2 linked regions of the Homo sapiens genome follow. Changing the gene in region 1 together with any one later gene gives a genetic interaction. Each region holds a gene or a part of one and is shown in the gene's direction. Other genes may lie near its edges.

Region 1 (3,819 bases):
AGTGCAATGGCACGATCTCAGCTTACTGCAACCTCTGCTTCCCAGGTTCAAGCGATTTTCCTACCTCAGCCTCCCGAGTAGCTGGGATTACAGGTGCCTGTCCCCATGCCCAGCTAATTTTTGTATTATTAGTAGAGACAGAGTTTCACCATGTTGGCCAGGCTGGTCTTGTACTCCTGACCTCAGGTGATCACATGACTTGGCCTCCCAAAGTGCTGGGATTACAGGTGTGAGCCAGCGCACCCAGCCTGCTTTTCTTTAAAACAATATTTATATAAATTTATAGAGTACAAGTACAATTTTCTTAGATGCATAGTGGTCAAGTGAGAGGTTTTAAGGTGTCAGCTGAATAATGTACATCGCACCCCTTAAGTAATTTCTCATCACCAACCCCCTTCCATCTCCTCACCCTTCCAAGTCTACATTTTCTATCATTCCACTCTCTACATCCACGTGTACACCCTTTTTTAGCACCCACTTATGAGTGAGAACATGCAATATTTGTCATTCTGTGTCTGGCTTGTTTCACTTAAGGTAACCTCCACTTCCATCCACCTTGTTGCAAAAGATAGGATTTCATTCTTTTTTATGGTTGAATAGTATTCTATCTGTGTGTCTGTCTGTCTATCTATCTCACATTTCCTTTATGCAGTCATCTGTTGATGGACACTTGGGTTGATTTTGTATCTTTGCTATTGTGAATAAGTACTGAGATAAATATACAAGTGCAGGTATGTTTTTGATGTATTGATTTCTTTTCCTTTGGGAAAAGAAGTAGAGGGAATTGCTGCTTTTGCATTGTCCATACTATGTATATCTGGAACTTAGAATAGCCTTATGTTAGACATTTTATTTCATTTTCTGTTTCCTTCAACCATCTTTCACGTATCGTATGTCTTTTTCTGTCTTGGCTACATTCAGAGTTATTTCGGATTTATATTTCTATTAAAATATCTCTATTTCTTTTATTCTGTTATTTGACATGTGCATTGCACTTTTCATTTTTATCATGTTTTTATTTCTAGAAGTTTTTATTCTTTTTCAAATCTATTTGAACAGTTTTGGTAGTCTTTTGTTCTTTACTCATGTTTTTGTTTCACTATTTTAAACATGCAAACATACTTATTTATGTTCTGTATTTGATAATTTTAATATCTGAAATCTTTATGCTCATAGTGCTTGTGTCTTTTGGAATTTTTTATGTAGGTTTATTTTTCTTTGAACTCTATGGGAATTATCTGAGGCTTGGGTTAAGGGCTTGAGTTGGGTTGGAGTGAAGCTTTTCTTTCAGGTAGGAGTTGTGCGTGCTTCTACCAGGTTCCTGGGGCACAACTTAGCATAGGACTACTTTAAGTTAAATTTAGGCTTGAGGTTTCTGGGACCATGCAGGTTGTATTAATTTGGACCTTTATTTATCTGAAGACTGGCCTGTGTTTACTTACAAATTATTAAAAGAAACTTCATTTTTCTCCTCCCTCAGAACCAAGACCAAGACACCCTTTTTCTTGCCTATTCCCTTTGAAGAGCAGATTTATATTTAACTCAGCCTTTAATTTTAGCTATAGCCCTTCCTGGCTTTACATGGGAGCTTTGGTTCTAACTCACCACCTTGCAGAGGCCCAAGGCTTCTGTGGCTGTAGAAACACATGCTATAGGTTATCAGAGGCAGAAGATAGCTGCCCTTAGGGCAGCAGAGAGTTTCAGCCTTGGTTACTCCTTTGGATTCATTCTCATGTTTTTAGTTTGGCCTCTCAGGATTTTACTTACTCTCTTGCAAGCTCAACCATAAATTTAAAAGGATTAAAAAGTATTTTTTATCCAATATTTCTGTTAGAGTAGTTTAACATGTTTTTTCTGCCCTAATTGCTGACTAAACTTTTTTTTTGGTACATGTCAGAGGCAAGCCGTGACTATCTAGGTATGGAAAGCATTTCTTAGTGATTGATTTGTGGCCATTCACAATATTGCCTAGGATCTGAGTATGTGTATACACTCAGCCTGTATCATGTTGAAAATTACTGTCAATAGAACAGACTAAAGTGATCTACATGTATTAAAGAAAACTATATATTTTCAAATTTCCTAATGTCAATAATATCCTTTTGATAATTCATTTTAATAAAAATAGTACAAGGTAGTTTGCAAATGATCAAGGAATGTTGTAAAGAAATTGACTTTTCTTCTTCAGTGTGCTTTATCTAGTAACTTTTTTTTTCCAGTTTACCAAGTACTGGACAGAATCAAATGGGGTGGAATCTAAATCATTAACTCCAGCCTTATGCAGAACACCTGCAAATAAATTAAAGAACAAAGAAAATGTATATACTCCTAAGTCTGCTGTAAAGAATGAAGAGTACTTTATGTTTCCTGAGCCAAAGACTCCAGTTAATAAGAACCAGCATAAGAGAGAAATACTCACTACGCCAAATCGTTACACTACACCCTCAAAAGGTATTTGCTAAGTGAATTAAGCAGTAAGAAGTTTCATTTTTCTTACCATGTTAAGTAAACATATAGCAGGTCAGAAATGACTAGCATTGCTTTCAGGAATTTCTAGGAGAAGTGAAGCTGTTTTTTATCATGTCATTTGCATTAGTTAAAATGAAAGCATATTTGTCAATTTCAATTTATTCTCAAATGATACCAAGTTTTTCCTCTTTTTCACGTTTATAAAATTGAATCATAGCATCCTAGGATATCAAAGCTGAAAGGCAAGTTAGAGCTCATTTAATCCAACTCCCTTTTTCACAGCTAAGAAACCTGAGACTCAGAAGGAGTGAAGTGATTTGCCCAAGGTCATATACCCAGGTTTAGACCTTTCATGCCCATTTACCCCGACTTATGACTCAAGCTGACGCCTCCGCTGAGCCTTTACTTATCTGGATCTCCAGTTGTGGTGTCTGGTCCTGTTCTGCCCTATGGTATTACTGCCTGTCCTCAGCAGGCAGGGTGAATCCATGATGCCCTTCCAGATATCTGTCTTTGTCCAGTTATCACAACTTCCTCATTTCCCTTGGTTTCCTCTTCAATTTAGTCATGAGCAGTTATTTAAACCATTTCCTTTATGATACTTCACTGTTTTGGTTGCTGGCCTCATCTGGACACATTCTATTTGATCAGACTGCCTCTTAGAATACAGTGCCTAGAACTAAACTGAGTTTTCTAGACTAGGTCTCACTAGGGTAGAGTGGTAAGTGTCATGACAGTAGAGACTCTCTGCCTTGTTTATTGCAGCATGGCATGGTCTGTAGTAGGGGCCATACCTGTCTGGTACATAGTACACAGTACTAGACCTGATGCCTAGTACATAATAGGGGCCATATTTATGTAATGAATTAATAAATTAGAGCCCAAAGGAATTTTATTTACAGTGATCCTGTTTATGTCACTTTAAAAAATGTTACCTAAACTTTATTAGCCTTTTTCCCCCCACCAATTGTGACCTTCTCAAGTTTCAAGATTCTAACAAACCTAAACTCTGGAGCATTGCCATGTGAACTGCTGGGAAACCACATCCTGCCATTGTGCTTCTAGTGTACTAATGGAGCTCATAGCCAGTTTGAGGGGTTAACTTCTTGTCTATAAAGATATTACGGAAGACTTTGCCAGAATATTTGCTAGAAGTCCCATTTTTATGTTAACGTCATTTTCCATTTCATCAACTCAAATAACACTTTCCGCCAAAATGTGAGGCCAGTTTGGTGTCCTGATGATGTCTGTGTTTGTGTGTGTGTGTGTGTGTGTGTGTGTGTGTGTGTGTGTGTGTGTGTGTGTGTGATGGTGTGTGTGTGGGGGGGTGCGGTGGCGCTGCCTGTGGTT
Region 2 (3,819 bases), on another chromosome or scaffold:
GAGCTCCAGCATCAAAGGTTAGACAGATTTTGAAGGCCTTTGACATAGATTGCCAAATTGTCCTGCAGAAAGGGTGCCACTAACTGATTTGTGATTCACCCAACAGTGTTCGCCGTTCCTCTAGGCCAAGATGGTATTACCATGTTTCAAAAGTGTTTGCCAATTTGTTGGGTTTCAGAATACCTTTTTTGATGACCATGATGTGTTTTCCTGAGCGCCTTCCCCTTCCTGAGCTCTGCCGTCACTGGTCCTCACCGCGTGCTTTTCTCACTGTTAGTTGTTTGATTTGCAAGCTCTCTGTGCTGACCCTCGTCTGCCTCATACATGGCCAGTATTGTCATCATTGCCCACCTTTCGTAGAGGCAGTTGTTTTATGATTTTCTCTTTATTTTTAATTTTTGTGGGTACATAATGTATATATTTGTGGGGTACATGAGATGTTTTGATACAGGCATGCAATTTGTAATAATCACGTCATGCGAAGTGTGGGATGTCCATCCTCTCCGGTGCTTATCCTTTGTGTAACAAACAATCCAATCATACCCTTATAGTTATTTTTAAATGTACAGTTAAATGTTATTTCCTTTTTGTTTTCTGCCTTTGATGTTATGTCTGGAAAGACATTGCCAACTACAAAAAAGCATTGTAAACTATATTATCCTAGAAACTGCAAAACGGCATTGTAAACTATATTAGCCTAGATTTCCTTCTAACTGTTCTGTGGTAAATAATCAAACTGAATAGAAATCAACGAGATGATGCTGGACAAGGTGACAGAAGAAGAACTCGTATCGGGAGGAGGAAACTGGAGTGGTGAATTGTGCTTTCATGTTGTGGCACGTGTTGAAATCTCATGCTCTCATTGCTGTCTCATTTGTTACATGTACGTTTACGCTCATATATCAGAATTCAGTGCAGGTGTTTTCATCGTTGTTTTTCTTGGTGTATATTGCTGATGTTTGGCCGTGACAGACTGTGATGGTCATCGTGTGTTCTGTCCCCAGACGAGTTTGGCGCACAGACTTGTGGCACGAGAAGGCTCGGCCGCTCCACTTCCCCTCTACACATCGCCATCCTTGCCCAACATCACGCTGGGCCTGCCTGCCACCGGCCCCTCTGCGGTAAGTCAGCCCCCGTGGGTCCGTGTGGTGTGGGGTGGTGGTGATGGGTCCTTCCACCCGAGCATCCTGGCTGTGCTTTCCAGGGCACGGCGGGCCAGCAGGACGCCGAGAGACTCACCCTTCCCGCCCTCCAGCAGAGGCTCTCCCTTTTCCCCGGCACCCACCTCACTCCCTACCTGAGCACCTCGCCCTTGGAGCGGGACGGAGGGGCAGCGCACAGCCCTCTTCTGCAGCACATGGTCTTACTGGAGCAGCCGCCGGCACAAGCACCCCTCGTCACAGGTGAGCACAAATGGGCCTGGGTGCAGCCAGGCTCTGAGGCTGCCCACGCTCTGGATGGTGCCCCGCCTTCGCCTGCCTTTGGAGGAGACAGGAATGCACGCCTGTCCCACCCCCACAGTTCCCAAACACACATCCCCATCACGTGATGTAGCCACCGTGACTGCAGTGAAAATCCATGCCTCACTCCCAGAGTCAGGTAGATGGAGTGGAAACAGAAGTCACTTCCCCTTTCTCACCTTTTGGGAGAGGCCACCGGCTCTTGCGATTTGGGTTTCTGTCTGGACCAAGCTGAGCCAGCGCTGGAAGCCCAGAACCGACTCTTGTGGTCAGTTTGTGTTAGCGAACTTTTACAAATGTGCACTGTCTGGGGGAGTGGTTACATTTAGAAAAATACAATTTAGAGGAAAATGGGAACGTCCTTATGAAATTACATAGCAACAGCAATGTGAAAGTGTCACTTCAGAAATGAGGGCACACCGGCCGGACACGGTGACTGACACCTGTAATCCCAGCAGTTTGGGAGGCCGAGGCAGGCGGATCACGTGAGGTCAGGAGTTCAAGACCAGCCTGACTAACATGGTGAAACCCCGTCTCTACTAAAAATACAAAAATTAGCTGGGCGTGGTGGCGCACACCTGTAATCCCAGCTACTTGGGAGGCTGAGGCAGGAGAATTGCTTGAAATTGGAAGGCAGAGGTTATAGTGACCCGAGATGGTGGCACTGCACTCCAGCCTGGGCAACAGAGCGAGACTCCGTCTCAAAAATAAATAAATGAGGGAGCAGCTACCTACCCCCTTGCCGTGCGGGTCATCGTTGTACATCTTCATAGCTTTGTGTTTGGCTTCCTGGAAACCTGTTGTTGCCAATTGAAAGCTGAAATACCCTCAGAGCTGCACCTGTGAAACTCTGGCAGTGAACTTGGTGAAAACTCAGGGGCTTGGCGTGTTGTAGGAGGCTGCGCTGCAGGATGCGTGGGGCTAGGGGCTGGCTTGGGTGGGCTTGGGCCTCTGGCTTGACTAGTCTGGTGGATTTTGGTGTTTTCTTGTTTTGTGCTGCCCATGTGTCTCTGTTTAGACAGAGAGGATTCCTTCTTATTCCTTCTTTGCCCAGAAGCCAAATGGCGCAATCTTTGTTTTGTGCCTGAGCCCCTTTCTGTTTGTTTCTCCAGAAGCTTGAATTCGTGTCCCTGCCTGTCCAGAGCAGAGGAGCCCGTGGTGTAACGAGGGAGGGGGCAGCCCTCACAGTGCCTCTCTGAGCTGCGGCCACAGTGGCAGGCACGCGGATCTCTCTGGAGGAATGTATCTGAGGTTGCGTCTGAGTCTCTTGGATGCTCTAGATCAGCTGGCACGAGTGTGGGTAGTGAAGGACACCTGAGTTTCTCGCCTGTCTTTAAAAACGTAAAATGTGCCTGATCTTCAGGATTCCTGGGATTCACTTCGTCAGAGATGTTTGTCACTTATCTTCTTTCCTTCTCTAAATCAGTTTATTCTGCACGATTAAATAGCATGCGTAATCTTGTGTATCAGGTTTTTGGAAAACAGCCTTTTTGATAGAACCTGGATATCGAGTGTGCATGGGTCTCACCTCTCTGAGAAACGCACTGAACTCGGCGTTGCTTCTTCCCTGTGTGCGCTCATCCCTCTTTTCCTCCCAGGTGCAGCTTGCTCGTTGGCATGGGGACCTGCCCACCGTGCCCTGCCCAGGCTCTGTGCCACCAGGGGGCCCATGCATGGTTGCCCAGCTTGCTCTGGCCTTGCTTTACGCCTGTGCCCAGCAAGCCCCTCCAGTCCTATGCCGCCACCTCCAAAACCCTGCAAGCCCCTTCTCTCCTGCACAGCCTCCCCAGGTTGCCAGCAGCTCATCCTGCAAACCCCCTGGCAGGGAGCCTCGGAGCCAGTGTCACGTGTGCAGCGTAGTGCAGCCACACAGCCGCCTCTGTCCCAGCTTTCTCCTGCTCCATGACCCTGGGAAGCCGCTTATGCTCTGTGTGCCTTGTTTTCCCATCTAGGAAGTGGGGATACTAAGCGGTCCGCCCCCGTGAGCCTGATGAGGGTTAAGTGGGCTGTGCACTCATGTGCCCCTGCAGGTGTTGGCATCATTGTTGTAGTCATTGCCTTGTTCTTAACCTGCCACCTCCCATGCTCTCTCACTCCCCCAGCCAGCCCCTGTCCGTCCTCAGTGTCTCAGGGGCCCTCCCCCAGCCCCGCCATGAGCAGGGCCCTCATTTGGAACCCGCTGGGATTGCCCCATCTTCTTGTGGGAAGAAGCCTCCTGTGCAGGTTCCTCCCCTCCGGTCTGTCCTCCTGTATCCACCGGACTCTCCTTGAAGGCCTGGAGGCCCCCACGCTGTCTAGAGCAGTACTGGCCAGGTCAGGAGCCACCAGCCACGGGGAGCTGTTAAATAAATAAGTCAGA

What was found.
Region 2: of MELK (region 1) and HDAC4, extra expression of one impairs growth in a mutant of the other (dosage growth defect), as found in Homo sapiens cells (one large-scale study listed by BioGRID).

What each region holds. Positions count from the first base shown.
Region 1 is NC_000009.12:36,663,131-36,666,949, forward strand, and holds part of MELK (maternal embryonic leucine zipper kinase), read left to right. Parts: intron 1-2,219; coding exon 2,220-2,451; intron 2,452-3,819. UniProt on the Homo sapiens protein: Serine/threonine-protein kinase involved in various processes such as cell cycle regulation, self-renewal of stem cells, apoptosis and splicing regulation. Has a broad substrate specificity; phosphorylates BCL2L14, CDC25B, MAP3K5/ASK1 and ZNF622.
Region 2 is NC_000002.12:239,131,829-239,135,647, reverse strand, and holds part of HDAC4 (histone deacetylase 4), read left to right. Parts: intron 1-1,004; coding exon 1,005-1,121; intron 1,122-1,204; coding exon 1,205-1,403; intron 1,404-1,409; exon of another isoform or gene 1,410-3,819. UniProt on the Homo sapiens protein: Responsible for the deacetylation of lysine residues on the N-terminal part of the core histones (H2A, H2B, H3 and H4).